Regions from separate parts of the Homo sapiens genome. Here region 2 is linked to region 1. The links come from fine-mapping of genetic effects on gene expression. A gene starts in region 1. The other region holds a variant in brackets. All regions are shown on one strand. Distances are from middle to middle.

The links. PIP is the estimated chance that this variant, and not a neighbour inherited with it, causes the effect. A credible set is the group of variants that fine-mapping cannot tell apart.
Region 2: its variant is the best candidate, but not a certain one, in a credible set for the expression of HDGFL3 in whole blood (TOPMed, PIP 0.79).

The regions. Positions count from the first base shown.
Region 1 is chr15:83,205,720-83,210,184 of GRCh38, reverse strand. HDGFL3 (HDGF like 3) reads left to right here and starts at 2,362. Exons shown (of 6, transcript NM_016073.4): 1 at 2,362-2,854. The coding sequence starts at 2,771. RefSeq lists an enhancer at 1,451-2,064 and silencers at 1,925-2,264, 2,655-3,104.
Region 2 is chr15:83,132,818-83,136,817 of GRCh38, reverse strand. TM6SF1 (transmembrane 6 superfamily member 1) reads right to left here. Exons shown (of 10, transcript NM_023003.5): 10 at 1-337. The coding sequence ends at 146. HDGFL3 (HDGF like 3) reads left to right here. Exons shown (of 6, transcript NM_016073.4): 6 at 1-4,000. Among named protein-coding and RNA genes, the nearest start is that of TM6SF1, 27 kb to the right of the region's middle. The variant C/T (reference allele first, on the strand shown) is at 2,024.

The DNA.
Region 1 (4,465 bases):
CTTGTGGCATCTACCCAGACATTTCCTTCCTTCTGGAAAATCTTTTACTCCTTGGCTCCTATGACACTACGTTCTTCTTCTACCTGACCCTTAGATGTTGGTGTTACCTGGCTCCAAACTTGGGCACTGCTTTTCTCATTCTACAGTTTCCTGGGCATCCTCCGTTATGGTTTCAGTGACCACTTATATACTGATATCACTCAAAAGTCTACATTCTGTCTTGACCACTTTCTCTAAGCTGTGTATTTAGCTGCCCACTAACTAGCTCTCTGGATGGCCCATGGAAATCTCAACACATCCCAAACCACTCAAGATCTCATCTCTAAACCTGCCCATTCTTCATGGATTTCTGCACCTTGGTGAGTGTCAAAACTAATCATCCTGTTGCTCCAACCAGAAACCAGGGAATCAGTTTCTACTCTTCCTCCTTCCTACCCACCTACCACCCAAAGAATCGGCAAGCTCTGTCTCAGCCCTTGTCTTATCTCTCCTGGGGAGAGAATATCAATGCAGGTCCTGCCCCAAGCCTCTCACCCTCAAGTCTAGTCCCATGCTGGCCACCAAAGTAATGTCTAAACCTGAACTGTGATCGCATCCCTCCATTGTTTACTGCCCTCCCCTGGTTGGCTTCCAACTGACAACCTTTCCCCTCTCATTTCTCTCCTCTTCCCTATATCCACCCCGTGCCCACAGGGAGGCTGGACTGTAGGGGCAAGCAGGCAACAGCTAGGGCTTTGACAGCTAGTCAGAGGGATGTGAGTTTGACATATGAGGATACAGAAATCATTCTACAGCTTCATGAGCAATGCGTGACATCATGGCAGCTGCATACGGTAGGTTCTAGGAGAGAGAGATGTTAGCAGATCATCACAACTGAGGCAAAGAGGACCTAGACTCATCTTCCACAGTGAGAAAAGAGGAAAAAAACGAACCTGTAGGACAGGTGAGTACAGGTCAATACCAAAAAAAAAAAAAAAAAAGAAAAATCATGAGATGCAAGTAGTAAGGAAATGCATTAGTAAAGTAATGTAAAAGCACTGCTAACAAAGTAAACAATCCACAGGAAATCTAGAGACTTTAAAGCCCCATCATAGGAAGCCCAGCACCACAGAACAAGAGCAGGAGTTAAAACACACACACACCATTCTACAAGGCCAGAGAGGGGGGCGGATGGTGGGGAAAACTGTAGCTTCTGTAAAAGGGAGAGAGAACAGACACAAATGAGAACTGTCCGTGTGACAAGGTGAGGGCCACAGAAAGCAGCATTTAGGAGCTATGCCAGCTGACCCCTTAAAGGAGGTGGGTTACAGCATGATTAAAGAAGCAGCATTCGTTCATTGGACAGACTCCAAACGATTCCTTGAATTATTCTACTTACTCCTCACAAAAGAGAGTGTTAGGAAGATTCCTACTCTCAAAATGTCTTTGAAAGCAGCCAGCTAGGGAATTTAGAGTAAAATAGTGGTAAATGAACATGTTCTAGAGCTAATGAACTGTATATGTACATACATCTCCAGAAAGGGATGCTAATTTCAAAAACGTTGTCCAAAAGGTTGCCAGGATTGGAAACAAGTGACCGGCCAGTGCAAGTCCTTTTCACAAACACTGCAGGCCTAGAAAACGCACACAGAGAGAAACATAATCGCTTATGGACTTTGGACTCATGTGGATACAGGTTCGAATCCCGTCTGTGCCACTCAGCAAATGAGAAAACCTCCCATGACTCCGATTAAATAGCTCGCCCTAGGTGGGTCACACTGCATTGTTAAGGGCAGACCTGGGGCAAGAATCCAATAAGGTCGCTGACTCCGGAGCGGTGCTCTTTCCGGCAGCTTGGTGCCCAGCAGAGGGTCCCCTCGCGCCGCCGTCCCCCAGGCCTGGAGCGCCTTTGTCCCCCACTCACCAGAGAGCAGCCGCGGAAGTGGCTGGCTGGGGGTAGCCAGGAGAGGGTCGAGTCAGCGGGAGGTGGGCGTGGGAGCGGGGGGCGCGAGTGGGGAGAACCCCCAGAGTGGCACGGACGGGAGGGGAAGGGGGCGGCCGGGTGGTGATTGGCTGGGCTGCGGCAGGCAGCTCCGGGCCAAGAACAAAAGAGAGCAGGCGGCGGGCGTCCTCCGGAGTAGGCACTCCCGCCCGCCCGGCGCGGGCTTCGGTGCTGGGGGAGGACGCGCCCACCGCCCGCCCGCCAGCCGAGAAGCCGGGCTGGCGCGCTCGGTTTCTCCGCGAAAGCCGGCCGTGTACCTAGGAATTAACCGGCCCGCGCGGGAGGGAAGGGGAGGGGAGCGGGAAGCGGGAAGCGGGGCGGGGGGGGGATGCTGAGCGCGCGCGAGAACAATAATAAGATCGTGTTTGCGGTCGCTGCCCGAGAAGGAATTCGGAGCAGACGCGAGGCCCGGCGCTCGCGCCGCGCCCGGGAGCCCGGGAGGGAGACCGGCAGCGGCGGCATGAGGCAGGCGACGCGGCGCTGGTGAGCAGCGCGCGCGGCGGCGGCGGCGGCGGCGGCGGGGACCTTGGCGCGGCCGGACGCGGGCGAGCGCCGAACGGCCGGGGGCTCCCCTCCCCCGCTGCCGGGCCGTGATTTGCCGGGCCTGCTGCGCCCCCCGCCCACCCCTTGCCTCAGCCGCCGCCTCGCCGCTTCCCCTCGTCGGAGCGGCCGCTCGTCCGCCCGGCTTGAGGCCCGCGGGGAGCGCGGCGCAATTCGTCGGCCCGCGGGGGGGCGGCCTCCCGGCATCTTCGCGGCGACCAAGGACTACCAGGAAGGGGAGCGGCTGGGATGGCGCGTCCGCGGCCCCGCGAGTACAAAGCGGGCGACCTGGTCTTCGCCAAGATGAAGGGCTACCCGCACTGGCCGGCCCGGGTGAGTACCGCGGCCGCGCGCGGGCCCGCCCGCCCACCATTTTCCCCTTCATGATGGCGCGCCCGCCCCCTTTCCCCATCGCCTCAGCCCCGAGCCCGCAGCTCGCGGCCGGCTGTGGTGAGGGCTGAGGGCGGCGCGGCACGAAGAAGACCGGGCCGGGGCTGAGGCAAGGGCTCCCGGCCTCGCCCGCACTCCGCCAGGGCGGCCATCCTTCCGCCCACTTTCGAAGGCGGGTCCGGCCCCCGCAGGCCCGACGCTGCCTTCCTCCTGGAAAGCCGGTGCCGACCGGGAAGCCACGCCGCCGGGCAGCGGGCCTGCGACGGAGGCTTCGGCTCCGGGCAGGGTCATTGGTGGATACCCTGGGTCCCGGGCGAACGTCGGGGCAGGTACGGCAGCGGGGTGAGCGGCTGTCCGCGAGCCGGCGAGTGCCGGCGGGCAGTAAATCCTGGAAAGTGGTAGTGGTCATCCAGAGGCCAGCGGGAGCCTCTTGGCAGTCATTCATCCATCTCTTTGCCTTCTAGACTTGTTGAGTTTTCCCTGAGCGCGATTCCCGGTGCCCCGCCTGCCCTATCATTGTCCTGGGGTACGTGCCTCTCTGGTGCCCATCGTTCTTTTAAACCGACCTCTGATAGCCGAGAGCTTGCAGCCTACCTCTGACTGGTGGGTCCAGCAAGCTTCTTGTGCCTTTCCACCTCCATATTTGTTTTAGGTAGAATCTCAAACCTTATTCTTGGCCTCCTGCTACAGTCCACAATAGCTCTCTCTTCCTACATAACAAGGTTGTCGTTGGGCTCTTTTTCTAGAAAGCGTCTGCATGTAATACATAGCATTCACAATTTTTATTAAGCTCTTTGAGGAAGACACACAACACTGCCATGTGTGCTTTGTGTTTTAGAAGAAATCCTTTTTATTTTTATTTTTGTATGGTTGGCAGTTGATTGCTTGAAATAAGAAATCTTGTGAAAAGGAGGGTCAAGGCATTCTAGAGATTATATTGGTATTCTTTAGGAACGGAAACAGTCATGGAGAAAATTGGCATAAATATAGTGTGAGCTCTAAAATGTTGTATTGTAGTCAAGTGAAGATAGCAAGATCAAGAAAAAAAAATACACCCATTCACAAAAGGAAGTGACATCACGAGTGGCCAGACTGAAATTTAGTGAAGTTGAAGTAATGGATGGACATAATCACTTTTTAAATATTTGGTTTGGCATGATTGTCAAATGGAAAGAACACTAGGCCAGGAATTGGGGGACCTGGTGTCTGGTTCAGGCTCTGTTATGGACTAATCATTTCAACTGTCTGCATATCCATTGCTGCAACTATAAAATCATCTCTAGGATCCTTTCCAACACTAACAACCTCAGATATCAAGAGGAAAAAACAGTCTTATTCAGGTTCCAGTAGACTGAAAATAGCTTCGCATCTGAACTGTAGATTGTCCTTAAGATAAGGCAAAGTTTTTAAGGTAGAATAACTGGTTATTTTTTATGCTGTAATACAGTATTGCTTAGAGAGGCAAGATTTGTGACTTTAGGAGTCCCTGAATATATTTGTGACTTCAGAAAATCCCCGAATCTGTTTGCCAAGTAAGAAATGTATAGCTTTAGG
Region 2 (4,000 bases), 73 kb after region 1:
CATATAGCTCACACATACAGTGCAGAGCAAGAATGTACATATTCTTAAGTACTCACGTATGAGAAGAGAGTGAAATGGGACAAAATATCAGTACCAGTATAACAAAAGTTAGTAATTTAGAAAGGAGGAACATGAAGTAATATTTTTATTCCACTTTTTCTTCTGCCTTTGTTTTTATGAAGAACTCTGGTTTGTAGATACAACGATAGGCCAAGAGCTGAGGAAGAACTCCATATGCTATGTTTAATGCTAAAAAAAGGATTTTTGCTTCTTCAGGGACTCTGTAGACATAAGCAGTTCTAGCATGAAGAGATGCACCAATGTGAGAAAACTGAGCCTGTTGCATTTAAAAAAAAAAAATTGAGTAAGCATGAAACGTGTTCAGTTGGATGCATGATGAGTTCTGAATGGTTCATTCAGGCTACGTTTCTGTGCCCTCAAAACCAGTCTCACCTGCAGGCAAAATACCTTCAAACAATCCAGAGTCTTTAATGTCAGAGTCTTTCATTAAATTTAGTCCTTGATTAAATTTAGGGCCATTCTTGATATGACTGTTCAAATAAAGTAGATATTATTTAGTGTAGTTTTATCATGCCAGTTGTGTTTTTTAACCATCAAGTGCCCCTTACCGAACATTAGTGGCTCAATCTAATAGAAAAATCTGAATAAAATCTCAAATTTTTTTCTGATTTGCGTTCTGGAGATCCTGCATACAGACTCAGTTGTGGTTCACAAATTGCGTTCCAATAAAAATGAAGAAAGCGCAGAGTTTTAAAAAACAAATATTTTTAGCATAAACTATTGAAAGGGAAGCACTGGGGGGACCTCAGCTTCATTTATCAGTCTTTCATCTACTCCTTGCAGCAAGAGCTCATACCCTTTCCCTATGTGTTTTTTGTTTATTCATTTATTCATGTATTTGTTTTTTCTGCAGCTTTTAAAATATTAAGGGTTGTTTGTAAGATAAGGTTGTTACCAACTTGGGTGGAGGTAGGAGTACGGTTGCTCTTTGTAAAATGGCAAATGTACATGCAGGCAACCTTTTTAAATCAAATTATAATTTATTTAGAAGTACGACATGTCAGCATTATCCGCATTTGCAAAATGGCCTCCCTCTCTACTTATATACTTATTCAGAAAACACATTCAGAATGTGCCAATTGGTCTTTTTTGATATTTTTCGCAAGCACAGAGGAAAACCGTATTGGAAAGGGTAAAACAGACCACAGCAGGATTAAAAGCTCCTGTCAGAAAATTTCCTCAGAAGGCTTGTATCATTACAAAATGTACCCCTGGAGTCTGCATTTTCATATCTTGCTGAAATTCAAGATACACATGAATAAAGGATTGGGAATCTAAATGTAATAAGTAGTAAATTATCAGTTCATCAGGATCAAAGAGACAAAAGACTGCACTATAGAGAAGGCATAGAAGTAACAAGAATGAAGAACTAGATAATTTGCTTTAAATACATATAAGTTATTTTACATTTCTTCCATATGAAACCAATTTATTCTGCTGAGTGATTTCACAGATAAAGGTGTTACTTACTTGACTTCACCATGACAAGAAAAGGACAAGTTTTTTTAAGCAGCATCTTTATGAATTTTTTATCAGTGGCAGATATTTTAATGGGCTGCATTTTTACAAATTCCTGATATATTCTGGAGACCTGTGGTACATTTTTGCTACTCTGGAGATATAAATTAAATTAGCATGATGTATTGCCAAGGACCAGCACGTGGATTGTCTACATTGTGATCCATGAGGCACTGAGAGGACTCGGCCCTCAGATACAACTCCCCTGGGTAGATGCCCAGGCAGAACCCAGCAAATGTATATGCATCTCTGGGCTCTGAGGACAAAATGCCTTGAGAGTAAAGGGCACTTTCAGGGCTGCCCTGAGGAGGTGCTTTCTGGACATTCTAGGAACTCTGAGCAGGAGCATGGCTCCCATACTGTTTTTCCTTAGGGCCTGTTTTGAATAATAGTGTTTTTCTGAATATATAACCAAGCATTTTCT[C/T]TGGACTGGAAGCCACATTTGATCCCTGGTTCTCAGAAATCTGGGTTTGGTGGTTCTGTCTTTATAGATACTTGTACACATCACAAAATCACCAAATTTGGGGAAATGCCAACCATACTTTGAGAGAATAAATATGAGCAGTTGTGCCTACTTGCATAGGGGAGCCTGTGTAAAAAGTCAGTGATTCCGTAGGCTCTTTTCCTGCACTAACCAGTGCAGTTAATACCTCACTTTCATGAACAGCAAACTCATGGCAACATTAAGTGAATCATGGCCGGGCGCAGTGGCTCACGCCTGTAATCCCAGTACTTTGGGAGGCCAAGGCGGGTGGATCACCTGAGGTCAGGAGTTCAAGACGAGCCTGGCCAACATAGTGAAACCCCATCTCTACTAAAAAATACAAAAAATTAGCCGGGCGTGGTGGCAGACGCCTGTAATCTCAGCTGCTCGGGAGGCTGAGGCAGGAGAATTGCTTGAACCCGGGGAGTGGAGGTTGCAGTGAGCCAAGATTGTGCCACTGCACTCCAGCCTGGGTGACAGAGTGAGACTCTGTCTTTAAAAAAAAAAAAAGATTCATGTCCTTAGATTAGATTGTAAGCCCACTGGGCAGGTACTGTGTCTAATGTTTTGTGTGGCACCTGTCACATTGTTAGAGCTCAATAAACGTTCAACAACAATGGACTTGTGACTGTCAAAATACAAAAAGGGTCTACAAAGCATTTCTCTAGTTTTGTATGTATTTTAGTAGGCCTCTTTATTCAGAATTATTAAACAAGGCACAAAAATTTTAACATTCATAATCAAAAGAGGCATTTGTATGTGAGAGAAGAACTCTAAGGCCAGTGGTGTGCAGCTCCCAGTACTGCTCATAGTCCTAATGGATGTACTTATGGTGGCCACACTTCCAGCTGAGTGAGCACCTGACCATAGCTTTCTCCTAAGGCATAGGATGTTAAGTGTTCAGGGTTCTGAAGTTCAGAAAAACAGTCTCACCTGAGGAGGTTTCTCTTCCCAAGCACATAGCTAATAAAGGGCTGCAGGTTTTCTCCTGGGTGATGTTCCCAGCAGCACAAGGCCTCTCATGGCAGGACCTGAAGAGCTCAGCCTGAGCCTGTGCTGGGGTCAGGTGGCTCAGTGAACTCAATGCTGCTGAATTAACAGGAGGCCCAGGATTACAGATATGAGTTGTTGATCCTAGAAATTTCTCCAGAATTTAGCAATGTGAGGTTGAGTCCCTAATAATTTTTCTTCCACTTCATTCTAAATCATTTTCACCTTACAGAAATAATTAAGAGATATACTCTGATTTTTTTTTAAGAATGGATGATTGGAATGGCAAATGAGACAATAAGGTGAACAAAGGTTAAATTTTAAGAGCTGTTTTCTTACATGTATAGAGACAATCTGTAAAGGATAACTAAAAAAGTTAATCGTGGTTCCACAAGGAGGAACTGAAAGAGTGTTATATGTCCATGTGAATGTTATAGGCAGAAAACTTAGGTGACCATTGGGATGATAGCCAGGGTCTTTTGCTAATACAGTATAAATAGCTAATCTAGAACTGTGTTATCTTTTCTTAGAGTTTTCTGAGCAACATAGTTCATTGGTTCAGAACACTGACTTTGGAACTAGACATCCAGAGTCAAATCACAGCTCCACCACAAACCAGCCGTATGGCCTCGGGTGAGGTGTGGAACCCACCTCATAGGTTGTTATGAGGGTTCAGTGAGGTGATGTTTGTGACATGCTTAGACAGTGTCAAGCACTTGGGGCTATTCTGTAGACACAAGTACAAAACTGAAATACCCATTCATGATCTGGTGCTCGACTGTAGAAAATCTGGGCCCTTTGTTTTTAGATTCTCTTGACCTTTTGACCTTTTTACTGTGAGTGTCTCCATGAAAGGATAAGTACATAAAAGATGTTAAATCAGTATAATTTAATACTAAATAAAGATGTTTAGCAATGAATCACACC